Regions from separate parts of the Homo sapiens genome. Here all the other regions are linked to region 1. Evidence: fine-mapped expression QTL. A gene starts in region 1. Each other region holds a variant in brackets. All regions are shown on one strand. Distances are from middle to middle.

Evidence for each region.
Region 2: its variant is fine-mapped to the expression of RRP12 in left ventricle (GTEx, PIP 0.97).
Region 3: its variant is fine-mapped to the expression of RRP12 in monocytes (TOPMed, PIP above 0.99).

Annotation. Positions count from the first base shown.
Region 1 is chr10:97,396,430-97,406,513 of GRCh38, reverse strand. RRP12 (ribosomal RNA processing 12 homolog) reads left to right here and starts at 5,174. Exons shown (of 34, transcript NM_015179.4): 1 at 5,174-5,421; 2 at 5,980-6,209. The coding sequence starts at 5,283. RefSeq lists an enhancer at 5,641-5,690.
Region 2 is chr10:97,199,946-97,210,029 of GRCh38, reverse strand. The region is part of intron 11 of ARHGAP19-SLIT1 (ARHGAP19-SLIT1 readthrough (NMD candidate)); the gene reads left to right. It overlaps LOC112268065 (a long non-coding RNA gene), which reads right to left. Exons shown (of 3, transcript XR_002957098.2): 3 at 6,309-6,745. Among named protein-coding and RNA genes, the nearest start is that of SLIT1, 19 kb to the right of the region's middle. RefSeq lists an enhancer at 6,284-6,883 and a silencer at 7,560-7,619. The variant G/A (reference allele first, on the strand shown) is at 4,900.
Region 3 is chr10:97,348,044-97,358,127 of GRCh38, reverse strand. RRP12 (ribosomal RNA processing 12 homolog) reads left to right here. Exons shown (of 34, transcript NM_015179.4): 34 at 932-1,427. The coding sequence ends at 1,034. Among named protein-coding and RNA genes, the nearest start is that of FRAT2, 18 kb to the right of the region's middle. The variant A/G (reference allele first, on the strand shown) is at 5,099.

The DNA of each region.
Region 1 (10,084 bases):
TAAAAAAAATGTATAAATAAATAAATAAAGGGAAAAAAAGAACAAGAATCGGAGACTTAGAGAGGTTAAATCCCTTGCTTGGTTTATAGGTAAAGTATGTCCTGTCTTGAACCCACCACTTTACCTGCCTTCTTTCAGCAATTACCCCAAGTCTAGACCTCTGGTTGTGAGCACAGCTCGCTTATAACAGTTTCCACATTCTGCTTCCTTTTCCTCCCCCAGCCACCAGTTCCCTTTTCTCAGCCTTCCCACTGAGGTCTCAGCCTGTGACCCAGGCACAGGGCCCCACTGGAGGATGATAATGTCTTCAGAGACTTGGAAGGGCTGGGGCCTAGAGTCTGAACTGACTTCAGTCTTCTCTGCAGCGACGCTTTCTCACATTAACACACTTTATGCTCTCTCTGCTCTAGGTGAGAGGACCACTTTTTTTTGTTGTTTTTTGAGACAGAGTCTCACTCTGTCACCCAGGCTAGAGTGCAGTGGCTTAATCTCGAGTCACTGCAACCTCCGCCTCCCGGGTTCAAGCGATCCTCCCACCTCAGCCTCCGAGTAGCTGGGACTACAGGTGTCTGCCATCATGCCTGGCTAATTGTCATATTTTTTGTAGAGACGGGGTTTCACCATATTGCTCAGGCTGGTCTCGAACTCCTGGGCTCAAGTTATCTGCCTGCCTCAGCCACCCAGAGTGTTGGCATTACAGGCGTAAGCCACCGCCCCCGGCCCACTTTGTATTTTCAGTAAGCCCATGAAGTGTAATATACATGTAAGCAGGGCATGGTGGCTCACGCCTATAATCCCAGCACTTTGGGAGGCCAAGGCGAGCAGATCACTTGAAGCCAGGAGATCGAGATTTGTCTGGGCAACGATAGCAAGATTCTGTCTCTTTTTTTTTTTTTTGGAGAAGGAGTCTCGTTCTGCTGCCCAGGCTGGAGTGCAGTGGTACGATCTCAGCTCATTGCAACTTCCGCCTCCTGGGTTCACGCCATTCTCCTGCCTCAGCCTCCCGAGTAGCTGGGACTACAGGTGCCCGCCACCACGCCCAGCTAATTTTTTATATTTTTAGTAGAGACAGGGTTTCATTGTGTTAGCCAGGATGGTCTCGATCTCCTGACCTTGTGATCTGCCCGCCTCGGCCTCCCAGAGTGCTGAGATTACAGGCGTGAGCCACCGCGCCTGGCCAAGACTCTGTCTCTTAAAAAAAAAATTAGCTTGGTGTGGTGGGTATGTGTCTGTAGCCCCAGCTATTTGGGAGGCCAAAGCAGGAGGATGACTTGAATTCAGGAGTTTAAGGTTATAGTGAGCCATGATCATGCCACTGGACTCCAGCCTGGGTGACAGAGTGAGGCCCTAGCTTTAAAAAAAAAAAAAAATTAGCCAGGCATGGCAATGCATGCCTGTGGTTCCAGCTACTCGGGAGGCAGAAGTGGGAGGATTGCTTGAGCCTGGAGGTCAAGGCTGCAGTGAGCCATGATTGTGCCACTGCATTTCAACCTGAGTGACAGAGGAAGACTCTGTCTCAAAATAAATAAATAAATAATTAAATCATAAATAAATGGGATTATAACTATGTACTCTTGTGTCTGGAGTCTTTTACTCAACCTAGGTCATGCATGATATATGTAGCAGTAGTTCCTTCTCATTGCTATACAGAGTCAAATACTATAGTATTCCATTATATATCAATATGTCACAATTTATCCATTCTACTCTATCTCTCTGTCTGCCTGTCTGTCTTATCTATCTATCTATCTATCTATCTATTCTAGACACAGAGTCTCACTGTGTTGCCCAGGCTGCAGTGCAGTGGCATGATTATAGCTCACTCTAACCTTGAATTCTTGGGCTCAAGTGATCCTCCTGCCTTAGTTTCCCAAGTGGCTAGGACTACGGGTGCATGCCACCACATGTGGCTAATTTTTAATTTTTTTTTAGAGATGGGGTCTCACTATTTTGCCCAGATTGGTCTTGAACTGTTGGCCTCAAGCAATCCTCCTGCCTCAGCCTCCCAACGCACTAAGATTACAGGTGTGAACCAGTGCATCCAGCCTCATTCTACGGTTGATGGACATTTTATTATTTCCATTGTGAACATCCTCCTATATCTCTTTTTTGCATATAAGTAAACATCTCTGTTGAGTAAATATGCAGGAAGGTATTGCTGGGTCATGGAGCAAGACTGTATTCAGTTTTAGTAGATACTACCACACAGTTTTCCAAAATGGTTGTATCACTTTATACTCCAATGGCAGCATATGTTGCCAGTTTCTCCACATCCTTACCAACATTAGTATTGCTAGTCTTTTTAATTTTAGCCATTCTGGTGGGTGTGTAGTGGCATTTCATTGTGATTTTAATTTGTATTCCCATGTTGATAATGAAACTGGTATCTTTTCTGTTCTGGTCTGTTCTTTTTCTTTTTTTTTTCTTGAGACAAAGTCTCACTGTGTCACCCAGGCTGGAGTGCAGTGGTGCTATCATAGCTTACTACAACCTCAAACTCCTGGGCTTAAGAGATTCTCCTGTCACAGCTTCCCAGGTAGCTGGGACCATGGGTGCACGCCACTGCACCCCACTATTTTTCTTAGTTTTTGAGGAGACAGGTCTTGCTGTGTTGGCCAGGCTGGTCTCCAACTCCTGGGCTCAAGTGATCCTCCTGCCTCAGCCTCCTAAAGTGCCGGTATTACAGGCGTGAGCTAGCATGCCTGGCCTGTTTTTCATATATTTATTGGCCATTTGGATATTAATTTTTGTGAAGTGCCTGTTCATGACTTTTTTATTTTTTGTACAATACATCATGATGTTCAGCTGTTTGTGTCTTTTGCCATTCTTCTTTTTTTTTATTTTTGAGACACAGTCTCGCTGTGATGCCCAGGCTGGAGTGCAGTGGCACGATCTCAGCTCACTGTAACCTCCACCTCCAGGGTTCAAGTAATTCTCCTGCCTCAGCCTCACAAGTAGCTGGGACTACAGGTGCCCACCACCACGCCCAGCTTAATTTTTTTTGTATTTTAGTAGAGATGGGGTTTTTCACTATGTTGGCCAGGTCTTGAACTCCTGACCTCGTGATCTGCCCACCTTGGCCTCCCAAAATGCTGGGATTACAGGCGTGAGCCACCACACCCAGCCGCCCATTCTTTTTTTTTTTTTTTTTAATTTTTTTTCTTTTTTGAGACAGGGTCTCACACTGTCACCCAAGCTGGGGTGCAGTGGTGCAATCACGGCTCACTGCAGCCTTGACTTTCTCTGGGCTCCCACCTCAGCCTCCTGAGTAGCTGGACTACAGGTTCACACCACCATGCTCAGCTAATTTTTGTATGTTTTGTAGAGACTGGGTCTCATGATGTTGCTCAAGCTGGTCTTGAACTCCTGGGCTGGAGCAATCCTTCCTCCCCTCTACTCCCTGCCCCCCGGCCTCCTACGGTGTTGGAATTCCAGGCCAAGCATCAGCCACTGCACCCACCTGTCCCTTTTGCCCATTCTTTTTATTGGATTGTCTGCCTTGTTCTTATTGATTGGTAGGAATTCTTTATATATTATAGATGTACTTTGTTAGTTCTATATATCTTCTTCCAAAGAATGCTGCTAAAGGTTTAGAATAAAGCTGCTGGGCAAGAGGGAAGAGAAATGTGTCTTTTGTAAGGTTTGGGATCTGGTTGAAGGATTTTAAGGAGGGTCTCAGGGGAGTGGGGATAAACTGGATCGGTTGCTGGTTCTGAGGTGGAATTAGGAGAACTGGGAATTGGCCGGATGCCAGGTGCGGTGGCTCATGCCTGTAATCCCAGCACTTTGGGAGGTGGGCAGATCACCTGAGGAAAGGAGTTCGAGACCAACCTGGCCAACATGGTGAAACTCTGCGTGTACTGAAAATACAAAAAAAAAAATTAGCCGGGCGCGGTGGTGCATGCTTGTAATTTCAGCTACTTGGGAGGCTGAGGCAGGAGAACTGCTTGAACCTGAAATGTGGAGGTTGCAGTGAGCCGAGATCGTGCCACTGCACTCCAGCCTGGGCACCAGAGCAAGACTCTGTCTCAAAAAAAAAAAAAAAAAAGAGAGAGAGAGAGAGAAATTGGAGAACCAGGGATTAATTAGGGATGGAATGCTGTCATAAGGCAAGGTGGCTTAGCAACTGAGTATCTCCAGTAATAAATGAAAATAGCAAAGCTTGTCTAGAACACCACTGACTGCTTTTTTCTCTTTTCAAGTCAAGCTAATTTTCACACTTTCAAGTCTCCATAAGTTTTGACTTTTCTTTTTTTTCTTTTTTTCTTTTTTTGAGATGGAGTTTCACTCTTGTTGCCCAGGCTGGAGTGCAATGGCGTGATCTCAGCTCACCGCAACCTCTGCCTCCCAGGTTCAAGCGATTCTTCTGCCTCAGCCTCCCCAGTAGTTGGGATTACAGGCATGCGCGACCACGCCCGGCTTATTTTGTATTTTTAGTAGAGACAGGGTTTCTCCATGTTGGTCAGGCTGGTCTCGAACATCGTGACCTCAGGTGATCTGCCCGCCTCGGCCTCCCAGAGTGCTGGGATTACATATATACTTTTATATGAAGGTATATGACTTTCATATAAATGTGTTTCTATGCTTAATTTTGAAAATAGATTTTCAAATGTAATATAAATGTACTTTTTGTTGTTGTTTAACTGCAAAAGAACTCCAGTTTTTTGTTTGCTTTGTTTTGTTTTTTTGAGACAGTCTTACTCTGTTGTCCAGGCTGGAGTGCCGAGGCGTGATCTCGGCTTACTGCAAACTCCGCCTCCCGAGTTCAAGTGATTCTTGTGCCTCATCCTCCCGAGTAGTTGGGATTACAGGCGCGCGCCACCAAGCCCAGCTAATTTTTTTATTTTAGTAGAGACGGGGTTTCACCCTGGTGATCAGGCTGGTCTCAAACTCCTGACCTCAAATGATCCACCCGCCTCAGCCTCCCAAAGTATTGGGATTACAGGCATGAGCCACCACGCTCAGCCAAACTCCAGTTTTATAAGGCTTACGCCTGTGGCCCTGAAACCTGGTCCTGGCTGGAGTAAGAACCCCATAGAACCCTTAGCAACCTAACTTCCTCCCTAGCAACGGATCTCCTTGGAGCTCCTCCCCATCCGAAGCCAGGAGGAGGTGTAAAACCGGATGTTGACTGTTTTACCATAGTAATGCACACGAATCCGGAAGTGACGCCAGAAGAAGAGGAAGTGAAGGCTACAGGGTATCCACGTGGGTTCTGAGCGTGTTTCTACGTCCCTGGAAGCCGGTCATTTAAGCTCATTCCTCGCCACGGCTTAGTCAACATGGGTCGCTCGGGAAAGTTGCCTTCTGGTGTCTCAGCTAAGTTGAAGCGCTGGAAGAAAGGCCACAGCAGCGACAGCAACCCCGCCATCTGCCGCCACCGTCAGGCCGCCCGCAGCCGCTTCTTCAGCCGGCCGTCAGGTAGCTGGGTTGAGACCCGAGCGCAGCCGGGGGCGGGGTTCCAGGCAGACCTGGGTCCAGATGAGTCTGGGGCCTCTGGGAGAGTGCGGGGCCAGGCATTGGACCTTTCGTCTCTTAGGATGTCGGATCTGGAGCCCTCTCTGAAGGGCAGTCCTTCCAATTTAGCAGATACAGAAACTGAGGTCCGCAGTAGGGAAATGTCTTGTGTAAGGTACCGCGGGTGTCAGAGTTGAGACAGATGGCTTGGACCTTGGGTAGCTCTTTACAGAGCGCGTTCACCTTCATTTATTTTGCAGGCCCTCTGAATGTAGCTCCCAGCCGATTCCCAGTGGCGTTTATGCCGCTGCTACAGGGAAGCAGAAACTTTTACATGGAGGATTCCCTTTCTCCTTGGTTTTTCAAGTTTTTAGGCATACAGTGGTTTTATGAGACTGGCTGTGTTCAGAATTCAGCCTCTCGGGTTGGAGATTTGGCCTGGGCTGGTTTGTTTCCCAGGGGTTGTTCTGTTCTCTTGACCAAAAGGAGGCTTGGACCTTATCTTGTGCCTCTGGCTCTCAGGAAGGAGTGACCTGACAGTCGATGCTGTGAAGTTACATAATGAGCTGCAGTCAGGGTCCTTGCGCTTGGGCAAAAGCGAAGCCCCGGAGACGCCCATGGAAGAAGAGGCGGAGCTGGTTCTCACCGAGAAGTCCTCGGGTACCTTCCTGAGTGGCCTTTCCGACTGCACAAACGTCACCTTCAGCAAAGTACAGCGCTTCTGGGAGTCCAACTCGGCTGCCCACAAGGAGGTAGGGGCGAGGGTCGGGAGGGCCATAGGATAGTGAGGAGAGGCCAACTCATGCCTTTTCTTCAGCTCTGGCCGACAGGTCTCCGATGACAACAGCTGGTATTTCTGGATGATGCGTCATCGCTCCTCCCCTTTATGTCTCCTCCTAGGGCAGGTTCTACTTTCTGCTTTTTATAAGAACATCTCCTCTGCTTAAGTACTTGAGGGTAGAAATATTTTCCAAACATTTCTCTCCTCAGCTATACCTAACACAGCACTTTTACACAGAGTATTTTCAATAAACATATGTTGAGTAAATAAATGCTGAGTAACAGTGATTAGGAAACGTTTTATCTAGCAAGAACTAAATTTATTTACTTTAATTTAACTTAATTCATGTATTTATTTTGAGACAGAGTCTCGTTCTGTTGGCCAGGCTGGAGTGCAGTAGCGCAATCTTCACTCACTGCAACCTCCATCTCCCAGGCCCAAGCAATCCTCCTGCCTCAGCCTCCCAAGTAGCTGCCATTACAGGCATGTGCCACCACGCCCGGCTAATTTTTTTTTTTTTTTTTTTAGTATATTTAAATAGTGCATTATTCAAGTAGCTAATTTTTTGTGTGTGTGTATTTTTAGTAGAGACGGGGTTTCACCATGTTAGCCAGGCTGGTCTCAAACTCCTGAACTCAGGTAATCCGCCCACCTTGGCCTCCTAAAATGCTGGGATTACAGGCATGAGCCACCGTGCCTGGCCTTACTTTTATTATTTTATCTATACTATAAAGTTATATATATTTTTTGTTATTGAAATAAAAAATGTCAAAATTCTAAATGATATCAAAATGATATAAGAATAATATAATGTGATGGTAGATCCCCCAACTTGAATCATTCACAGAGCTCCTGTTAATGGGTCATTGTCTGTCTTCCTGGACCAGCTCTGTCCAATAGTAATCTAAATTCAAGCCACATATGTAATTTAAAAATGTTTAGTAGCCATATTAAAAACTGAAAGAAACAGGTAAAATAAATTCATCTTTTTATTTTTTTCTGGAGCCGGAGTTTCGCTCTTGTTGTCCAGGCTAGAGTGCAATGGCACGATCTCGGCTCACTGCAACCTCCGCCTCCTGGGTTCAGGTGATTCTCCTGCCTCAGCCTCCCGAGTAGCTGGGATTAGAGGCGTGCGCCACCATGCCCGGCTAATTTTCTGTTTTTAATAGAGACAGGGTTTCTCCATGTTGGTCAGGCTGGTCTCAAACTCCTGACCTCAGGTGATCCACCCGCCTCGGCCTCCTAAAGTGCTGGGATTACAGGTGTGAGCCACTGCGCCCGGCCCAAATTAATCTTAATAATGTACTTTATTTAACTCAGTATCTTTAAAATATTATCACTTCAATGTATAATCAGTATATTTTACTACAGCATTATTTTTATGATACCAAGTCTTCAAAATCTAGTGTATAATTTACCCATATACCCCTACTTAGATGCTAAATTTTCATTGGAAATACTTGATTTGTGTCTATTTAGAGTTCATAACATTTATGGTTGTACAAGTAGATTTGCCTACTATGAATTACTACGAACCTATTTGCCAGGTTGTTACAAATATATGTTTTCTAGTAAATAGATCAAATATTTTAAATTATGAGTAGTTGAAATTTAAAAACTAAATTTTCAGGCTGGACATAGTGGCTTACACCTGTAATCCTAGCACTTTGGGAGGCCGAGGTGGGCAGATCATTTGAGGTCAAGAGTTTGAGACCAGCCTGGCCAACATGGTGAAAACCCATCTCTACTAAAAAATTAGCCTGGCATGGTGGCATGCGCCTGTAATCCCAGCTACTTGGGAAGCTGAGGCACGAGAATCACTTGAACCCTGGAGGCAGAGGTTGCAGCGACCCAAGATCGCACCACTGCGCTTCAGCCTGGGTGACAGAACGAGACTCTGTCTCAAAAAAAAAAAAAAAAAAGGCCGGGCGCGGTGGCTCACGCCTGTAATCCCAGCACTTTGGGAGGCCGAGGCGGGTGGATCATGAGGTCAGGAGATCGAGACCATCCTGGCTAACAAGGTGAAACCCCGTCTCTACTAAAAATACAAAAAATTAGCCGGGCGCGGTGGCGGGCGCCTGTAGTCCCAGCTACTCGGGAGGCTGAGGCAGGAGAATGGCGTGAACCCGGGAAGCGGAGCTTGCAGTGAGCCGAGATTGCGCCACTGCAGTCCGCAGTCCGGCCTGGGCAACAGAGCGAGACTCCATCTCAAAAAAAAAAAAAAAAAAAAAAAAAATACGTATATATATATACATATATATATATATATGTATATATATATACGTATTTTTTTTTACCCAATTTTGTTATTTAGGTTTACCAAAATGTGATTAGTTTCTTTTCTTTTCTTTTCTTTTTTTTCAGACAGAGTCTCACTTTGTCACCCAGGTTAGAGTGCAGTGGCTGATCAGCCTTCCAATTCCCAAGTAGCTGGGACTACAGGGGAGTGCTACCATACCAAGCTAATTTTTGTATTTTTTGTAGAGATGGGGTTTGCCATATTGCCCAGATTGGTCTTGAACTCCTGGGCTCAAGGGATCTGCCCACCTGAGCCTCCCAAAGTGTTGGGATTACTGGTGTGAGCCATTGTGCCCTGCTTGATTAGTTTATTTTTTATCCACTGTTCTGCAACTTTTTCCCTACTGAACGATATTTATAAGTTAATATATAGTTGTTCTCATTCTTTTGAATAATGCACTATTTAAATTTTTCATTATTATATAATGATACAGTCAGGTCTCTATATTTGCGGGTTCTGCACCTGCAGATTCAACCAAGCATGGATTGAAAAATCTTTTTAAAATAATAATAATATACCAGGCGAGGTGGCTCACGCCTGTAATCCTAGCACTTTGGGAGGCCGAGGCGGGCAGATCACTTGAGGTCAGAAGTTCAAAACCAACCTGGCCAGCATGGTGAAACTCCATCCCTACTAAAAGTACAAAAAATTAGCCTAGCGTAGTGGCACATGCCTGTAATCCCAGCTACTCAGGAGGCTGAGGCAGGAGAATCGCTTGAACCCGGGAGGTGGAAGCTGCGGTTAGCAGAGAGTGCGCCACTGCATTCCACCCTGGGTGACAGAGTGAGACTCTGTCTCAAAAACAACAACAACAACAACAACAACAAAAATACAGTATAACAACTATTTATATAGCATTTACATTGTGTTAGGTGTTACCAGTAATCTAGAGATGATTTAAAGTATATGGGAGGCCAGGCATGGTGGCTTATGCCTGTAATCTCAGCACTTTGGGAGGCTAAGGAGGGCAGATCACTTGAGGCCAGGAGTTCAAAACCAGCTTGGTCAACATGGTAAAACCCCATCTCTACTAAAAATACAGAAATTAGCTGGGCATGGTGGTGCACACCTGTAATCCCAGCTACTTGGGAGGCTGAGGCAGGAGAATTGCTTGAACCCAGAGGCAGAGGTTGCAGTGAGCTGAGATCATGCCACTGCACTCTTGCCTAGCTAACAGTGAGACTCTATCTCAAAAAAAATAAATAAAGTATATGGGAAGATGTATATAGGTTATACACAAATACTACACCATTTTTTATAAGGGACCTGAGCATCCTCGGATTTTGGTATCTTTAGGGGTCCTGGAACCAATCCCCCCCTCGATAACTGCAGTACATTAGAGACAACTACAGTACATTATTAATCTCCTGTTGATGGCTTCTTGACCATTCCAATTTGTTGCTGCCATGAACATCCTTGTACATAAATATTTGCACACTCATCTCATGCAGGTATTTCTAGAAGGTTAGTACCTCATGGTGGAATTTTAGCAAGCATTTTCTGAGTCTTGTTATTTGCTGGGCCCCCTGGTATGGACCTAGGCCCTG
Region 2 (10,084 bases), 200 kb after region 1:
TTTGTATTTTTAGTAGAGACGGAGTTTCACCATGTTGGCCAGGCTGGTCTCGAACTCCTGACTTCAGGTGATCTGCCCGCCTTGGCCTCCCGAAGTGCTGGGATTACACATGTGAGCCACTGCACCCGGCTGACAAATGACTTGTGTTCTGCACCCAAGGGGAACTGATTCCACAACGTACCCCCTCATCACCCCCTAGCCTTGGTCCACCATTGGTCCTCGCCATCCTGGAGCTTCCATTCTGTTTCAAGGATGAGGAATCTGAGCCTAGAGAAGCACAGTGTCCCCACTTCTGTCACATGGGTGCTAGCGGCAAACCTGGACTAGAAGTCAGGTACCCCAGACTCCCTGCCCAGTGCTCTTTTCACTGGGTCATTCTGTTTTAGCAGTGGTGGCCATGGCAGCCATTTCTGTTTCTCATGTCTCTAAACCCTAAGCCTGAGACAGTGACCAAGGGCCCAACCCCTGCTATGTCATTTATAGTCTGAGCATAGGGCTGGGACCAGAGGAGGCCCCCAGCAAATTGTTGAGTGAATGTTGAAAGGAAGGAAAGAAAATGCCCTCCAGACATTTCAGAAGCTCATCATTCCTGGAGGTGGGGGGACCTCAGCCAGCCATCTGGTGGCAGACTAACTACATTGGACCCCTTCCACCATAGAGGGGACATCAATTTTGTCCTCACTGGAACAGACTCTTATTCTAGATATGGATTTGCCATCTCTTCCCAAAATACTTCTGCCAGTGCAACCATCTGTGTCCATGGAATACCTCATTCACTGTCATGGAATTCTACATAATATAGCTTCTGTCTTGCTCTGTCGCCCAGGCCGGAGTGCAGTGGCACGATCTTGGCTCACTGCAACAACCTCCACCTCCCGGGTTCAAGAGATTCTCCTGCCTCAGCCTCCTGAGTGACTGGGATTACAGGCACCCGCCACCACACCAGGCTGATTTTGTATTTTTAGTAGAGATGGGGATTCACCATGTTGGCCAGGCTGGTCTCAAACTTTTGACCTCAAGCAATCCACCCGCCTTGGCCTCCCAAAGTGCTGGGATTACAGGCATGAGCCACCGCGCCCAGCTGTCTTTTTACTTTCTTATTGTGGCTCCAGAAAATGTTGAATTACCTATGATATCTGAATAGCTAGTATATGTATATGGCACCAGATTCAAAAGGTATGAAAGGATATTGAGACTCACAAAATGGAAGAAAATATTTGCAACTTATATATCTGACAAGGGAGTAGTGTCTAGGATATATAAAGAATTTTTTTTTTTTTGAGACAGGGTCTTGCTCTGTTTCCCAGGCTGTTGTGCAGTGATGTGATCACAGCTCACTGCAGCCTCAACCTCCTGGGCTCAAGCAATCCTCCCACCTCAGCCTCCCCATTAGCTGGCACTACAGATGTGTACCACCATACCTAGCTAATTTTTTGTAGAGATGGGATCTCGCTGTCTTATCCAGGCTGGTCTCACGTTCCTGGGCTCATGGGCTCAAGCCATCCTCCTGACTTAGCCTCCCAAAGTGTTGGGATTACAGGCATGAGCCACTGAGCTTGGCCAAGAATTCTTACAACTCAACAATAAAAAAAAACAAATAACCCAATTTAAAAATGGGCAAGGATATGAATAGACATTACTTCAAATAAGACGTACAAATGTCCAGTAAGTGTATGAAAAGATGTTCTGCTGCTTGAATCCAAAGAGTGTTAGTTCATGTCCTGTCCAGGAGATGATTTCCCCCACCTTGACTTTCCCCAGTGTCATTCAAGCCCCAGCTTTTAAGATCCCGCCCCCTAGAAGCCTTCTCTCTCCAGGCAGAGCTCTTGGCTCCACTAGCTGAATTCCCACAGCAGCATGAACGCATCTCTTCTGGAGCCCTGGTCACGTTGCACAGTGTTTATGTGACTGCTTTTCTTAGAGATGGTGAGCTCCTGCAGGGAAGGGATCAGTTCCTATTCACCCTTGCATCTCCCTGGCTTAGCAGGGTGCCTGGAACACAGCAAAGACTCAGTGTCTGGCTGGCTGGCTTGCAGGAAGGACAGCTGTCTCTATTTTTAATTTTTTTAGAGATAGGTTCTCACCTGGGCTGGAGTGCAGTGGTGCGATGACAGCTCACTACAACCTTGAACTCCCAGGGCTCAGGCGATCCTCCCACCTCAGCCTTCTGAGTAGCTGGGACCACAGGCACGTACCACCATGCCTGGTTGCCGCCTCTATTCTGGACTGAGAGTAGGAGACTGTAGCAGGAAGTCAAACCTGATTAGGTAAAGACCACGGCTCAGAAAGGTTAGGGAACTGCGCAGAGAGTTCTGGAACTGTGGCTGCCTCCATCTTACTAGAAAGATGAAACTGCTTTCTGAACCTGAAAACTCACCTATCTGGCTTGTAGATCTTTTAATATTCTAGGTTCCTGACTGAATGGGACGCCCATGAGTCACTGTAGGGGGGGCACAGGTCTGAGGAGAGGCAAGGCAGTGAGTCCCTAGGTTTCAGCTCAAACAGAAACCCTTTGAGCTCTGAAGGGGCATGTGCTTGCCATAGGAGGGAGCACCTGCTGGTCCTTCCCTCTCTGGCTCTGGTGGGTTGTTTCTGGAAACCCTTGGGTCCTAAGGAAACCCTTTCTCAGTCTGCCCCATTGGCTGAGGGCAGATGTGGGAGATGAAGGATGGGCAGGGGCCCTGCTCCATGAACCCGCACTTGGCCCGCCCTGGGGAGCCAGCAGGGTGCTCTGTGAACCCACACTTGGCCCACCCTGGGGAGCCGGCAGGGTACTCCATGAACCGGTACTGGGCCCACCCTGGGGAGCTGGCAGGGGTTGCTGGGCTCACCACCTCCTGTCTCTACAACCCCCAATCGCTGGCCGCTCACAAGTGGCCATTGGATGTGTGAGAGAGATTTCCACAGAAAGTGTTTCTGTGGCTGCCTCATTTTAATTAAGTGAACCTGGAATTTAAGGGTTAGCTCCTCGGTTTTGGGGTGAGCCTCTTGTAGAAATCCATCTCTTGTAACTCCCAGTGTTGGCAAGTGTGTAGTGAGATGGGGACCCTCACACCTGCTTGGGGTCGGCGGGGGGCTTTTCTGGGTAGTTTGGCAATAAATATCAAGCCTCAGACATTTCCCCTTGTGTTATCATTTATTTTTTAGGTGTGATAATGCGGTTATGTTAAAAACAGTCCTTTTGTTGTAGAGATACATACTGAAATATCCATGGGTGAACTACACAGCAAACAAATCTGGGATTTGTTTCGGCATCATACATTTGGGGTAAGGAGCGTGGGTGGGGTATAGCTGAGAAAAGCTTGGCTGTGGGTCAGCTGTTGTGGATGCTGCTGGATGAGGGGTTCAGGAGTTCATGGTACTGTTCTGTCTACATTTATTTATTTTTTAAAATTCCATAATAAAAAAGTTCAATTAAAAAGTCCCCTTTGACTTGGCATTTCTACTGTGATGACATCAGTCCAAACCCCCAGCATCACTCACCAGGCTTCCCTGTTTTCATTCCCATCCCTCCTCGGTTCAGGGGGATCATGCCCCATCTGCATCTCCACTCACAGCCCTGGGATCCCTAGGGCCCACCTGCCCCCAGGCTTCCAGATCCCAGAGCCTGTGGGTGCTCTCTGGCCTCAGCATCAGGGACACTCTCCCTCCACCCCCAAACCCCTCACCTGGATGGTGACTACTCATTCATCTGATGTCAGGTTGGTGTCATCTCAGGGGAGCTGCTGACTCCCAGGCAAAGTCACACTTCTCTAATACTCTCCATCCTTCATGGATGGGTCCTTCATAGCTCTCACTATAATTTGTAACTATAAACTCTTTTTTTAATTAATTATTTTTTTGAGACAGGGTCTCACTCTGTTGAGGCTGGAGTGCAGTGGCATGAACACAGCTTACTGCAGCTTGGCCTCCCAGGCTCAAGTGATCCTCCCACCTCATCCTCCCAAGTAGCTGGGACTACAGGCACATGACACCACGCCCGGCTAATTTTTGTATTTTTAGTAGAGAGGGTGTTTCATTATGTTTCCCAGGCTGGTCTTGAATTCTGGGCTCAAGCGATCCGATTGCCTCAGCATCCCAAAGTGCTGGGATTATAGGAATGAGCCACCACACCCTGCCCTGATAAGCTCTTGTGATTGCTTTTGTTTCATTGCAGTCTGCCTCCTGTACTAGACTGTGAACTCTCTGAGGGCAGAGACTATGTCCGTGTGGCTTACCACTGCATCCCAGAGCCACACACAGAGCCTGGCACATAGTAAATTAATGCAGAAGGGGACACGTGTTTGACAAACATGTATCATGTTCCAGGCAAACTCTGTGCATATAGTTGGCTGGCTGAGAACATACAGTTGGAAATGTTAGGCAAGGGCCACATCACAAGGGCCTTGTGGCAACATTAGGGGACTGGCCGGATGGTGCAGATCCAGGGAGCCATTGAAGGTGCTCAAATGGAGGAGTGGCATGTGCTCCAGGCAGCCCCTCTGGCTGTCTCATGTTGGAAGGGAGACCCTGGAGGCCGGGTAGCCAGATGGGCTGGCACTGGGGTCCCATGGGGGCTTGAGCTCAGGCCAGGGCAGTGGTGATGGGGGCGGGAACGGAGCCAGTGTTTGTGGCAGTGATCCGATGTGGCAGCTTCTTGGCCCTTCTTCCCTGAAGAAACAGTGCCTCTGCACAAGAGAGGTGGGTAGGAGCTGTATAGGGCCCTGCTGGGGACAGAGTATGTTCCACAGACACATCCCTGGATCACAAAGAGGTTTGCAAACGGTCACTAGGAAGTGATTATACAGCACGGTGCCTTGGGGCAGGGGTAGGGGCAGGACCCTTGTCCCTGAGGCTAGGGAGTTGAGGCTCATGATGGCAGAGCCTGGCAATGGTGAAAGGCAAGTCACTTGTTCGGCA[G/A]TGCATTTTAGGGTTCCATGCAGAGCCAGCCGAAGGAGCTTGGGAGACCCTGGAACCTGAGAAGCCACTGGGGCCTCTGCAGGCCTCCTGGTTGGGTCTTCAGCTGGAGCCCAGGAAAGGCTGCTCCCAATAAGTGGCGATGTCATCAGCTGGGTGTGTGCCGCCCACCAGCATTGCGCTTCCCTGGGACCTGCTGTACCGCTGCTGTCCCAACGCATGTGCCACACTTGCTGTCTGTCCCCTAGGAAGCTTGTAATTGGCTGCAGGGCAGCCAAGTCACTCAGCTCCTCTCCCTGTGGGAAGTGGCTGTGGGGAGGCCAGAGGGTTGGGAGGATGCCGAGTAAAAACTATATGATAGCTACATAGACTGAAAGCTAAGTCGTGCCAAGCCCAGTGTTGGGCTCTTTAAATGTTACTCATTTGACCTGAGCTAGGTCTCCTTTCCCTCTCTCCAGTGGAACTCTGTACTTTTAAAACACTTCTCACAGTTGTAATAGAGAGAATCGTTCATGTGTTTATTTATGTAACATCTGTCTTTCTCGCTAGACTATTAACTCCACGAGGGCAGCGATTGGGTCTCTGTCCTCTACTGTAGCTTCAACACCTAACACACTGCCTGGCACAGAATTGGCTGCAATAAGTATTCATTAAATCAATGAATGATCCCCCCAAAAACCCAATGAAGTAGGTACGATTATTATTATCCTTGTTTAAGGATGGGCAAACTGAGTCTTAGAGAGCTTGAATAGTCCAAGCCACAGACCAGGAAGTAGCACCCAGAATTCAGACTCACATGATTAGCCCAAGGCAGGGGTATGTGGCCCAAGGTTGGCCAATAAAACTCGAGCTGGGGAAAGTGAGACTGCTGTCCTTTTTGTCCCTTGGCTATTGGGATGTGAGACTAGGGTTGCTGGTGGCCATACTTCTAGCCTAGTGGGGCAGCTGGCCTGAGAGTATGGAGCATGCAATGATGGGAGAGAGACAGAGAGCTGGCGGGAGAGAGAGAGAGAGAGAGAGAGACTGATTCTGAGTTCCTGGATACCCTGTGGCTTGGGCTGGCCTAGTTCCCCTTCCTTGCACTTGTAGCGGAGAGTTCCAATGGGCATAGTGATGAAATCTATCACCACCATTGGTGTAGTGGAAAGAGAATGTCCTGGGCTTCAGTTCCAGCTCCACTGGGCACTCAGTGTGTGACACAGCGAGTCCCTGTTGATCTCTGGGTCTCAGCTTCCTCAGCTATAAAATGGGGTCATGACTTCCAGCTCCTAAGCGGTGAGTGGGAATAATGAGAGAGTACTAAGGTCTGTGACTCGGTGCCTGCTAGCCAGCAGTTGCTCAGGAAGCGTGAGCTGTCCCTTGTAGGTGGCTTTTGGTTGCAAGTAATAGAAAACTCATCCAGGACCAGTGTAAACAATGAGGGCTTTCATCTTTATAGGCCACAAAAATATCAGGGGAAGGGCATGTCCAGGGTGGTGAATCCAGAAGCTCAGCATTGTCACCAATAACCTGGGTTCTTTCTTTCAGCCTTGCCATTCTCACCGTGGCAGTCATTTCCCTCGAGGTTGCAAAATTGCTGCCCCAGCTCCAGGCATCACACAATGTTGGCCTGAGGAGGAGGTGTTTCTTCTTCATGTCCCTTTGTAAGGGTGAGGAAAACCTTCCCAGCAGCTCCCAGCAGACGCCTCGTCAAGTTTTATTGGCTGGGATTGTCATTCGTCTAAGCCAGTCATGGTGCTCTATTCCCTTGTGAATGCTAGCATCGGTGTAGTGGAAACAGGATGGCCTGGGGTTCAGCTCCAGCTTCACTGGGCACTCAGGGTGTGACAGCATGAGTCCTCTTGTCTGACTGGACAGACAATGGTGGTACTTAGAGCGAAATACTCAAAGAGAAACTCAGCTACTTTTATAGCAAAACTTCCTTGCATTTCTTTATAATTTCACCCAAGAGTGCCTTCTTAAACTCTACAATTTAGTCTTACCCATGTGCAAACTTTTAAAATAAATTGTAATTGTAGTAAGAAACACAATATAAAATTTACCATCTTAACCATTTAAAATGTATAGTGTAGTAGTGCCAAGTACTTTTTCATCTTGCTGCCTGGGCAACATGGCGAAACCCCATCTCTACAAAAAAATGCCAGCATTTATAAGGGAATATAACACCATGATTGGCTTAAACAACAAAGACCCCAAGGGGCCAGGGTGAGAGATGGAATGAAATTTGTTTGGTGAGCAAGGAGCAAGGGGAGCGTGACTGTGTCTGCCGTGTTTGTTCACTGACATTCCCCAACCATCTCACACAGAGCCTGGCCATGGCAGGCGCTCAGCAAGTCCTCACTGGATAATCGAATACGTGCCCAGGCCTTCTTTCCATCCAGCAGGGTAGAGTCGGGGGAGCAGGTTCTTAGGTGGAGGGAATTCTTCAGATGACTGTGGTGATGCGTCTTTAAGAATCTTCTAGGCCAGGCTGGGCATGACGGCTCATGCCTGTAAATCCCAGCACTTTGGGAGGGCAAGGCGGGCAGATTGCTTGAACCTAGGAGTTTGAGACCAGCCTGGGCAACATGGCGAAACCTCATCTCTACAAAAAATTAGCTGGGCCTGGTGGCGGGTACCTGTAGTTCAACCACTAGGCTGAGGTGGGAGGATCACTTGTGCCCAGGAGGTCGAGGCTGCAGTGAGCCATGATCTTGCCACTGTACTCCAGCCTGGACAAGAGTGAGACTCTGTCTCAAAAAAAGGAAGTTCCAGGCCTTAGGGGAAGTACCCAGGACCTAGGACCCAGACTCACTGGCTTGTTAGGGACCTGCGGAGGAGGTTTTGGCTCTCAGTGGGGCCAGAGGGGCCAGGTTTGCATGGCTGCCTCAGTTCTTCTAGGTCTATTCTAGTTGCTTGGAGCATTTTTTTTTTTTTTTTTTTTTGAGACGGAGTCTCACTCTGTCACCCAGGCTGGAGTGCAGTGGCGCTATCTCAGCTTACCGCAACCTCCGCCACCCAGGTTCAAGCAAGTCTCGTGCCTCAGCCTCTCAAGTAGCTGGGATTATAGGCACCACCATGCCCAGCTAATTTTTGCATTTTTAGTAGAGGCGGAGTTTCACCATGTTGACCAGGCTGGTCTTGAACTCCTGACCTTAGGTGATCTGCCTGCCTCAGCCTCCCAAAGTGCTGGGATTACAGGTGTGAGCCACTGTACCCAGCCAGTTGCCTAGAGCTTCTGAGCAGCAGGCAAGGAGGGTGAAGAGGAGGGAGCAGGTGGAGGGAGGTGAGGTGGCTCCTCTAGGAGGGGTCTAACGGCTGCAGAAGGTGGCAGGTTTCCTTGGGCAACAGCATGCAAACGGTGGCAGCTGGGATGGGAGGACCAAACTCTCTTGTCAATCTAATATTTAGTTCATTCAGTTTCTCTTCACTGAGCACCTGCAATGCGCCAGGCATGTGCTAAACCAGGAGATAAAATGACGAGCTAATACAGGCATGACTCCTGCCTTCTTGGAGCTTAAAGCCTAGCGAGTGAGGCAGATATGAATCAAATAATTCTAAAAGTAAATTTAAATTGTGACTACGGTAATCCACTTTTGGCCTCCCAAAATGCTGGGATTACAGGCGTGAGCCACTGTGCCCGGCCAAGTATTTTTAAAGTATATACATTGCCTTTTAAAACACAATAGTAATTGCATGCTTAAGAGACTACAGTGTAGGGTAAACATAACTTTTATATGCACTGAGAAACCAACAAATTCATGTGACTCGCTTCATTGCAATATTCTCTTTATTGTGGTTGTCTGGAACTGAACCTACAATATCTCTGGAATATGTCTGTATTTCCAGTAAATTGGTAAATCTAGAGGCTTGATCAAATTCAGGTTTTGATTTTTTGACAACTATAGGTGATGGTGTGTTCCTTCCTCAAGAGGAGCACATAATGTATTATTTGTGTGTGTGTGTATGTGTAAAGGGAGTGACGTTCACAGCTGCTGATACACAATGCCTAGATTCATTCATTAATTGGTGGGTACAAAATGGTATCACTCTAATTTGATCATTCCTTTTTCATTAATTAGCTGCAACATCTTTCTTAGCAGTCAGCCAGTAGAGAGAAGCTAAACTATAACCAGTGCAATACCGCTTTTTTGTATCTTATTGTATTTATTTTTTGAGACAAGGGCTTCCTCTGTTGCCCAGGCTGGCATGCAGTGGCATGATCATAGCTCACTGCAGCCTCGAAGCAGGCAGATCACTTGAGCCTAGGAGTTTGAGACGAGCCTGGGCAACATGGCAAAACCCCAAATCTCCCTCAACATACAAAAATTAGCCAGGCGTGGTGACATGCACCGGTAGTCACAGCTACTCAGGAAGCTGAGGTGAGAGGATCACTTGTGCCCAGGAAGTCAAGGCTACAGTGAGCTGTGCTTGTGCCACTGCACTCCAGCCTGGGTGACACAGCAAGACCCCGTCTCAAAAAAAGTAAAATAAATAATAAAAAATAAAGTGGTGAAAGTTGTTACTTTCAGGAGAGGGAAATGGGGACGAGGAACTGCCATTTTCATAAAAAATCTTGCAGAACAAGTTGTCCATTTATGTCCATGGATAACTTTGATGAAAAATAAAAACTAAAATGAAAGGATAAGGCACAGAAGGAGCACGGGCTTTGTATGACACAGACCTGCGTTTGAGTCTGGAATCCCTTACTTCGTTAGCAGGGTGTTTATGAGTCACACGACCTCTTTGAACCTTGGTTTTCTTACTTTATTTTACTTTTTTTTGAGACAGAGTTTTGCTCTTGTCGCCCAGGCTGGAGTGCAATGGCATGATCTCGGCTCACTGCAACCTCCATCTCCCGGGTTCAAGCGAGTCTCCTGCCTCAGCCTCCCGAGTAGCTGGGGATTACTGGCACGCACCACTATGGCTGGCTAATTTTTGTATTTTTAGTAGAGATGGAGCTTCGCCACGTTGCCCAGGCTGGTCTCGAACTTCTGACCTCAAATGATTTGCCTGCCTCAGCCTCCCAAGTTGCTGGGATTACAGGCGTGAGCCACCTCGCCCAGCATATTTTATTTTTTTGAAACAGAGTCTGGCTCTGTTGCCCAGGCTGGAGTGCAGTGGCGCGATCCTGGCTCACTGCAACCTCCGCCTCCCAGGTTCAAATGATTCTCATGTCTCAGCCTCCTGAGTAGCTGGGATTACAGAT
Region 3 (10,084 bases), 48 kb after region 1:
CTCTTGACCTCATGATCTGCATGCCTCAGCCTCCCAAAGTGCTGGGATCACAAGCACGAGCCACCGTGCCCCGCCCTGAACTGCTTCTTTAAACATGATATTATGTCATACAGATGTTTTCTGGTATTTACATACTCTACATAGTCATCTTTTTTTTTTTTTTTTGAGACGGAGTCTCGCTGTGTCACCCATGCTGGAGTGAGTGCAGTGGCACGATCTCGGCTTACTGCAAGCTCTGCCTCCCGGGTTCACGCCATACTCCTGCCTCAGCCTCCGGAGTAGCTGGGACTACAGGCACCCGCCACCACACCCGGCTAATTTTTTTGTATTTTTAGTAGAGACGGGGTTTCACTGTGTTACCCAGGATGGTCTTGATCCCCTGACCTTGTGATCTGCCCACCTCGGCCTCCCAAAGTGCTGGGATTACAGGCATGAGCCACCACGCCCAGCCATAGTCATCATTTTTAATAGCTTTGTATAATTTGCTTTTCTAATCCCTTTATTGGTAGGAAATTAGAGTTGTTTCCGACTTTGGCCCTTAAATTGGGTTATGTGTAGGACTGCTTTGGAAACTAATGTTACTAGGGAAATGGTGTTGTAAAGTTCTAGCTTCTGCGGGTTGTAAGTTACCTTTCAATGGAGGGATGGGTGGGCAGAGGGAGCTTTGACCTTCTCTGGACATACATTAGAGGAAAAATGGAAGGGAGGCCTGTTTCCAGGGGGATAATTGTGCCAAAGTGGAATGTCCAGGTCAGGACATGAGCCGTGTGGAAGCTGGAACCACGTGAGGTCTGCCTAGTTCATGTGCTGGCCACCACCTGGAGGCCCCCTTCTCATCCCTGCTGGCGCTGGGGGTGAGCCATCATTTGGCAACAGGAGGGGGCCTCCTATTCTCAGCCAGATGTGACCCTTCCGTTCCTTGGCCCTGCAGGAAGAAGATGAAGCTGCAGGGACAGTTCAAAGGCCTGGTGAAGGCTGCCCGGCGAGGTTCCCAGGTGGGACACAAAAACCGCAGAAAGGATCGTCGACCCTGAGGCCCAGGGCCCCTGGGCTGCCCTGTGGTCCAGTCTGAGGCCCTTTCAGCCCCCAGGCTGCCTTGCCACCAGCTCCAGGTGCTCAAGATTCTGGCAGAGCCTGGACTCAGGATGACTTGGAACTAGGGCTTGGCTCTCAGAAGTCCTGGATTTTGGAAACTCCAAATGGAATCACCCTTCAGAGACATCCCTGGTGCCTGGAGATGGGAATGTGGCCTCAGTGCCTCTGAGTAGGTGCCATGAGGCACCTTTGCTTTCTGCCCAGAGTGGCCATGAGCACCAGAACAGATGATCTCCATTTCCGCCAGCTGCCTGTAGCCACGTGGCATCCTGCCTGTGGTCTGGGTGAGATTTACTGTGACCAGATGTAGAATAAATGTGTCTCATCCTGCATTTTTTTTCTAGAAACTGTTTCATAGTCTGCCCCCTCCAGGGGTAAGAACAGTGTGCAGTTGTTGGCAGCAGTGGCCTGACCTCTTCCTGTCTAACTCCTTACATCCAGTCCAGGGCATATCATAAGGCTTTGCCCATAGGACAGGCTTTGGAACTTGCCCGGGAGCACCCACCTGTGTCAGGAGGGGCAGCGAATGCCCCAGGGCTGGTGTCGGGAGCTGCAGTTCAGCACCAGGGACTGCCCCAGCTGTCCTGGGCACAAGTCTCTCCAGCATCTTTGTTCATTGATTCAACAAAGTATTTGCTGAGCCCCTCTAAGTGCCCAGCATAGCCTTGTTCATTCACCTCCGTGTCTTCCCACATTCTTTTTTTCCCAGACAAGGGGATCTGTTTGTGTAATGTGATTCACTGGGCCAGCTTTGTTGGTCTGGAGCAGAGAAGGGCATGGCACAGAAGTCCTGAGGTCACTGTCCTGTCAGCCCAGGTCCCCTCATGTGGATACAATCCCACAGGCAGCCAGAAGCAAAGAACCCCAGCACTGTTCCCACACCCCAGTATGAGTGTGCTTTGTGCCCTAGCACCTGACTGATACATTCTTCCCATCTCAGATCCTCCCAACGTGAGGCGAGCACATGCACACATTCCTCGTTTCCATTCTAGTTTAAGGCACTTGGCTCTGATAATGGTCCCAGGAGGCCCTGTGCACCTCCTGGCAGCCTGTCCCACCACACTCTTCCACTCATTATCTAAGGGGACCCAAGTCTTAATTGGATCTGGCGCTCCCCAAATTAGGGCATTTCCTCCCAATGATTTGGGGCTAGGAAAAGCTGAAAGGAACCACACTCGGCCCAGAGGTGGCACTGTTTACATGCCTTGTTCACAGAAATCTAGAATTGGAGAGCAAGCAAGAAAGGTGGTCAGGAGTGGCTAGGAGAGATTTGCAGAGGGGATCTAACCATACTCCCCGTTGTTACACTTCTGGACACAAGTTGGGCCGAAGTAAGCCAAGCCCAGTCCTTCCTGTTTCCTTTCTCAGGAAATGTGACCACGTGCACTGGGAAGCTTTGTGTAAAGTAGATAGGGGTATGAGCCAATTGCCCAGCATTGGTGTTTTGTTTTTTGTTTGTTTGTTTGTTTTCACAGAGTCTTGCCCTGTCACCCAGGCTGGAATGCAATGGCGTGATCTCAGCTTACTGCAACCTCTGCCTCCCAGGTTCACACAATTCACCTGCCTCAGCCGCCTGAGTAGCTGTGATTACAGGCACCCGCCACCACGCCCAGCTAATTTTTGTATTTTTAGTAGAGACAGGGTTTCACCATGTTGGCCAGGCTGGTCTCGAACTCCTGACCTTGTGATCCGCCCACCTTGGCCTCCCAAAGTTCTGGGATTACAGGCGTGAGCCACTGCGCCCAGCTTATTGGTGTTGTTTGTTTGTTTTTTAAAAAAAGGCCAGGCACGGCTCATACCTGCAATCCCAGCACTTTGGGAGGCCGAGGCGGGTGGATCACCTGACCAACATGGAGAAACCCCATCTCTACTAAAAATACAAAATTAGCCAGGCATGGTGGTGCATGCCTGTAATCCCAGCTACTCGGGAGGCTGAGGCAGGAGAATCACTTGAACCCGGGAGGCAGGGGTTGGGGTGAGCTGAGATCGCATCATTGCACTCCAGCCTGGGCAACAAGAGTGAAACGCCATCTCAAAAAAAAAAAAAAAAGAAAGCGTGAAGCCAACCTCCTTGTTATATATAGCACATTTTCCAAGGAACTTTGTTTTCTTTTAAAGATGGGAAAGGCAGGTGACCTAGAAAGGTTGGTGTTAGTGATGTGCTGAATGCCATATTCTTTTGGAAGTAGACTTCAAATGCAAGTGATCTTGATGCAGAGGCAAGAATTAATCTTCACCCTGAAACTTCAGGTGTATTTTGAAAGTCAGTGTTCTTGAGGCCGGGCGCAATCACTCACACCTGTAATCTAGCACTTTGGGAGGCCAAGGCAGGTGGCTCACCTGAGGTCAGGAGTTCAAGACCAGCCTGGCCAACATGGTGAAACCCTGTCTCTACTAAAAATACAAAATTAGCTGGGTGTGGAGGCACACACTAGTCCCAGCTACTCGGGAGGCTGAGGCAGGAGAATTGCTTGAACCCGGGAGGCGGAGGTTGCAGTGAGCTGAGAGCGCGCCTTTGCACTCCAGCCTGGGTGACAAGAGCGAAACTCTGTCTCAAAAAAAAAAAAACAAAGTCAGTGTTGTTTCAACAGTGTGGCGAAAGAGAGTCTTAGGAGTGTTCATCAACAAAAGATTCATCCAATTTTAGGGTGAATAGGAAAGTTGAGAGCTCTCACTCTCCAGATTTTCAATTTGTGCTTTTGGGAATGTCAATCTGAGGCTTGCTTTTCTGGGGTCCATCCTCCACTCATTCTCAGAAATGGAAAACAGGTCCTACCCTGCTTGACTACGAAAACCGCAACCCTGCAGTTGGCCAAGGGAGTGGTCAAGCTTTGGGGATTTGCAAAGGCGGTCTAGTCATGTCCACATTGTGACACTTCTGGCCATGGGTGAGTCAGGTTAAACTGACCTTGCCCCTTCACTATTTCCCTTCTCGTGATTGTGGCAGAAGGCTTGGTGGGGACTGTCCTGGCAGTTCATTCCTGCCAGTGGCCATCTTTAGAGCTAGTCCTACTTACAGCATGATCAGTCCCAAGAAGGGTGTTTTTTCTGTACTGTTTGCAACATGTAACAAAATTGCTTATGAAGTTCAGGTAGCCTGTTTTCAGTCCTCAGAGTCCTTTCCCCATTTTTTCTTTCTTGGTTGCTTATGTTTCCTCAAAGGGTAATTTTAAAAATTAAAATCGTATATATTTCACTACAAAAGTGATAAAGATTCCCAGAACATTTGGAAAAAACAAAAGTAAAAGTAGGGGCTAAAATCCTTCCACCAAATTCTGTTATTACTAGTGCATTTCATTCTTTTTTTTCTTAATATACGTAGGGCTATTTTTTTTTTAATTAAGGAAAAAATGTAAGGCCAGGCACAATGGCTCACACCTGTAATCCCAACACTTTGGGAGGCTGAGGCGAGAGTATCGTTTATGCCCAGGAGTTTGAGACTGGCCTGGGCAATATAGTGAGTCCTTGTCTCTACAAAAAATTAGCCAAGCGTGATGGAGTACACCTGTAGTCCCAGGTCCTCCGGAGGCTGAGGTGGGAGAAGAGCTTGAGCCTGGGAAGCAGAGGTTGCAGTGAGCCGATATCATGTCACTATACTCCAGCCTGGGCAACAGAGTAAGACCCTATTTCAAAAAAAGGAAAAATGGGGCCAGGTACGGTGGCTCATGCCTGTAATCCCAGCACTTTCGGAGGCCAAAGCAGGTGGATCATCTGAGGTCAGGAGTTTGAGACCAGCCTGGCCAACATGGTGAAACCCCGTCTCTACTAAAAATACAAAAAAATTAGCTGGGCATGGTGGTGCGTGCCTGTAATCCCAGCTACTTGGGAGCCTGAGGCAAGAGAATTGCTTGAATTTGAGAGGCAGAGATCGCAGTGAGCCGAGATCACGGCACTGCACTCCAGCCTGGGCAACAGAGCAGGACTACATCTCAAAAAAAAAAATGTTTTAAAATGCAAGTTTACACTTTATATATATATATGTGTGTGTGTGTTTTGAGACAAG[A/G]TCTTGCTCTGTCATCCAGGCTGGAGTGCAGTGGCACAGTTACAGCTCACTGCAGCCTCAAATTCCCTGGACACAAACAATCCTCCTGCTTCAGCCTCCTAAAGTGTTAGGATTACAGGCATGAGCCACCATGCCTGGACAATTTGTGTTCTAAATTTGCACTTGACTAAAGTTCTTACCGTATACTAATGTAAATGCTTCATAAAGATCATTTCCTTTTCTTTTCTTTTTTGAGACGGAGTATCACTCTTGTTGCCCAGGCTGGAGTGCAATGGCGCGATCTTGGCTCACTGCAATCTCTGCCTCCCAGGTTCAAGTGATTCTCCTGCCTCAGCCTCCCGAGTAGCTGGGATTATAGGTATGCACCACGACGCCCAGCTAATTTTTGTATTTTTAGTAGAGATGGGGTTTCTCCATGTTGGTCAGTCTGGTCTTGAACTCCCAACCTCAGGTGATCCGCCCACCTCGGCCTCCCCAAGTGCTAGGATTATAGGCATGAGCCACTGCACCCGGCTATAAACATCATTTTCAGTAGCTCAGCTTTAAACATCTGCCCAGCGGACATAGTTCAGTTTACAAAGCATCTTTGAGTCCATAAGTATGTTGTTCTTTGCTGTATGCAGGAATTTAATGCCATCACTAGATGCCAGACCGTGTGCAAAGGAGTATTTAGAAAATGCCGTGATGACTACTCTATGTTCTATTTTCGATATACATTATTGTGAATAGATAGATGACTGTACTCCAGAAAATAACCCTGATTTGGGACAATGTAAGCTGGTTTGCCATTTCCTGAAATTATGCTTGACGTAGCTACTGCCATTAGAAACACCAAGCTGTTAGAGGCCAGCTGAGTTATCCAAGGCCAGGGATGCAGTGGCACATTTCCTCCTCCCATTCCAAATCTCAATGATTCGTCATGGAAATGCCTGGATTTGGGTTTTGAGGCCGTGGTCAATCATCAGTAAATACTGACTAAGAACGTAGGTAGATGGTGTAGTGGCTTGCTGCTGCATACTCATTCCAGGGCTGAGGACTGGAGATCAGCTTTACAAGTCTAAAATTGGGATTGATGCTGGGTGCAGTGGCATGTGCCTCTAGACCCAGCTACTTGGAAGGCTGAGGTGGGAGGATCACTTGAGACCAGGAGGTTGAGGCTGCAATGCACTTTGGTCCAGCCTGTTATAGTCACTGCACTCCAGCCTGGAACTCTAAATAAATAAATAAGGATAAAATCAGGATTGATCAGGTTCAGAGAAGAAGATACAGATTCACATGAGACCTAGTCGAAATTATAATATATTAATTTATAATGAGAACTATAACTGCCCAAGATACTCAAGGTGACTGCTCAGCACATGCTCCCTTGCATAGGAAGCTGAAACCAGTGTGTTTTCTGTACTGGGGGCATAAAACAGGGCAAATGGAATCATGCAAGTGATATGTGAATAATATTGTCATTGGGGTGGGACAGTTTTGTCTCTGGGGATATATCTGCCTACAGGGGCCCATTCTCCTAGCAGCCTGTTGGGGCCCTGCCCCTCTATTTTGGTTGGCTGCAGAATGGAACAGATCCTTCCTCTCTGGTATCTTGTAGGGCCTTTGCAGCCATTTACCTGCTGTTCAGAAGCTGTTCTGAGATTTTTTTTTTTTTTTTTGAGGCAGAGTTTCGCTCTTGTTGCCCAGGCTGGAGGGCAGTGGCACGATCTTGGCTCGCTGCAACCTCCGCCTCCCAGGTTCAAGCGATTCTCCTGTCTCAGCCTCCCAAGTAGCTGGGATTTACAGATGCCTACCACCACTCCCGGCTAATTTTTTGTATTTTTAGTAGAGACGGGGTTTCAGCATGTTGGCCAGGCTGGTCTCGAACTCCTGACCTCAGGTGATCCACCCACGCCTCAGCCTCCCAAAGCGCTGGGATTAGAGGCGTGAGCCACCAGGCCCAGCCTGTTCTGAGATTTAGTAAGGCTTCCTTCACAGGCAGGCATGCCTGGATTGAATTTCCAAGGCCAGTTCTGGCTTTCACCAGAGAGACATCCTGTTCCTTCTGGGGCCTTGTTCAGATAACTAATCCTGTCCCTCGTGTAGACTTGAAGGGTTTAACTTCCAGAGGGCAGCCTGATTTCCAAATTCCAGGGATGTCACCCATCACCCATTACAGAGCTGATGATTTTAAGTCAGAATTTCAAAGAGGATGTGAGGCACTGATGACAGGCAGATGGATTTGCAACTGGTGCCAGGAATAACCTGTATAGCCCTCATGGTCCTCCACCAGTGAAGGTTCTGCAAGCTCTTGGAAGTCTTGGTTTTTTGTTTGTTTGCTTTTTTGAGACAGAGTCTCAATCTGTCACCCAGGCTGGAGTGCAGAGGCATGATCTCAGCTCACTACAACCTCTGGGTTCAAGCAATTCTCCTACCTCAGCCTCCCAAGTAGCCGGAATTACAGGTGCATGCTGCCACGCCTGACTAATTTCTGTACTTTTAGTAGAGATGGGGTTTCACCATGTTGGCCAAGCTGGTCTTGAACTCCTGACCTTAAGTGATCCGCCCGCCTCGGCCTCCCAAAGTACTGGGATTACAGGTGTGAGCCACCATGACCGGCCAGAAGTCTTGTTTTTAACCAGAACAGTTGCTATGCCATAGCTCTTGGACTTGAGGCCACTGAGCCTGAATTACATACACAGTAGATAACCTGAGACCAACCCTCAGTTGTAAATATGCTCATAAAAATGACAAGGCACAGTGTTGCCCTGAGCAGATTTTATGTGTATCGATTGGATCATTGTGTGATAATACTTATCTAAAAACGCCTTCATTCATCATTCCAGCAGCTAGTTCAACTCCTCGAAGAAGATGGGGTGCTCCAAAGCAAACACTCATAATTATCAACTAGCAAAGCTGACATCTAGTATTCTGAGAAAATTCCTCCCTGCTCACATGAGGACTATCACGTGGGTCCTGTAGGGGTTCCTCAGGATTTCACAAAGGGGTCTAGCGTCTGTTACATGCACAGTCACACCTGCCAGATTTGAATCTCCTGCACAGGTACGGTGGCAGTTACAATTGGAGCTTGTACGGAGCTCTCCAGCTTACCAAACACATTCACACCCACCATCTCTTTTGATCCTTGCAACAGTTGCCCTGTTTGCATTGTGATTATGGTTATCTTTATCATGATTCCCACTTCGCAGCTGAGAACTGAAAGGCAGAAAGGATGCATGGTTTGGGCAGAGTTATGCAGGTAGCAGAAGGTAGCACCCAGGTCTCTGGAGTTAAAGCCTATGCTGCTGCAGCCTGCTGAAATTAGCCCCCGGGGAGGGCACAGTGTTGCAAAGAGGCTTGGCTGTGAATTTCCAAATGCCATGTGAAGTTGGACACCAGCGTCTGTTCTCCCTCCCATTCATTACCCTGCAGGCTCTTTGCTCCCAAAGCTCTGCTACTCTGGGATAAAGACCAATTACAAAACAGGTCTGTTTATACTCAGTGAGAGGTGGGTGAGCTTGAACAGCGTGAACTTGACATGAAGGGAAGGGCTGGGCTGGGCTGGGCATTCCTTCGTGTCTCTTCCAAGGAGGGGGATGCAGCTGGCCTGCAAGTCTCTTTCCGCGATCTTCTTGCACATTTCTTTTTTTTTTTTTTTGAGACAGAGTCTCACTCTGTCACCCATGCCGGAGTGCAGTGGCGCGATCTTGGCTCACTGCAAGCTCCACCTCCTGGGTGCACGCTGTTCTCCTGCCTCAGCCTCCCGAGTAGCTGGGACTACAGGCACCTACCACCACGCCCGGCTAATTTTTTGTATTTTTAGTAGAGAGGGGGTTTCACCGTGTTAGCCAGGATGGCCTCGATCTACTGACCTCGTGATCCGCCCGCCTCGGCCTCCCAAAGTGCTGGGATTACAGGCATGAGCCACCGCGCCCGGCCTCTTCTTGCACATTTCTTATTCTCTCTCTCTCCCTTACACACACACACACACACACACACACACACTCTCTCTCTCTCTCTCTCTCTCTCTCTCTCTCATTGGGCATTTATTCTGAGCAAAGGACTTCCAAAAAGACATTTGGTGAGGGGTGAGAGATAGAGTAGTAAGCAATGCAGGCAGGATCCTTGCCTTCACTAAGTTTATGAGGAGCCAGAACAAATAAATAAAAAATTTAATAAAACACATGATTAGGATAGTGTTGGCCGGGCGCGGTGGCTCACGCCTGTAATCCCAGCACTTTGGGAGGCCGAGGCGGGCGGATCACGAGGTCAGGAGATCGAGACCATCCTGGCTAACACGGTGAAACCCCGTCTCTACTAAAAATACAAAAAATTAGCCGGGCGAGGTGGCGGGCGCCTGTAGTCCCAGCTACTCGGGAGGCTGAGGCAGGAGAATGGCGTGAACCCCAGGGGGCGGAGCCTGCAGTGAGCCGAGATTGCGCCACTGCACTCCAGCCTGGGCGACAGCGAGACTCCGTCTCAAAAAAAAAAAAAAAAAAAAAAAAAAAAAAAAAAAAGGATAGTGCTATGAAGGTTCGGCATGGATATCATGCTGGGTCCTGGTTTGGGCAAGTGAAGGGAGCCATAGCAGGAGGGCCTCTTGGAGTGGCATTTAGCTAAGACCTGGAGGATGAGTAGGCTTTAGGGTGGCAAACAACCAAGGCTCCTACATTTCCAGAAACCCGGGACCAAGGGCAGCAGTCACTTGCAGCTTGGAAGGTGGGCTGGGGCTGGACTCATGTGGAAGCTTTGTTTGCATACCAGGCTTACTGTTTCTACTTAGACTGTGTTTATGTGTGTGTGCAGTTGGGGTTGGGAGCATTGCTGTTAAAAGTGCCTCACTTTGGCTGGGAATGGTGACTCACGCCTGTAATCCCAGCACTTTGGGAGGCCAAGGCAGGCAGATCACCTGAGGTCAGGAGTTCAAGACAAGCCTGGCCAACATAGTGAAAACCCATCTCTACTAAAAATACAAAAATTAGCTGGGTGTGGTGGCGGGCACATGTA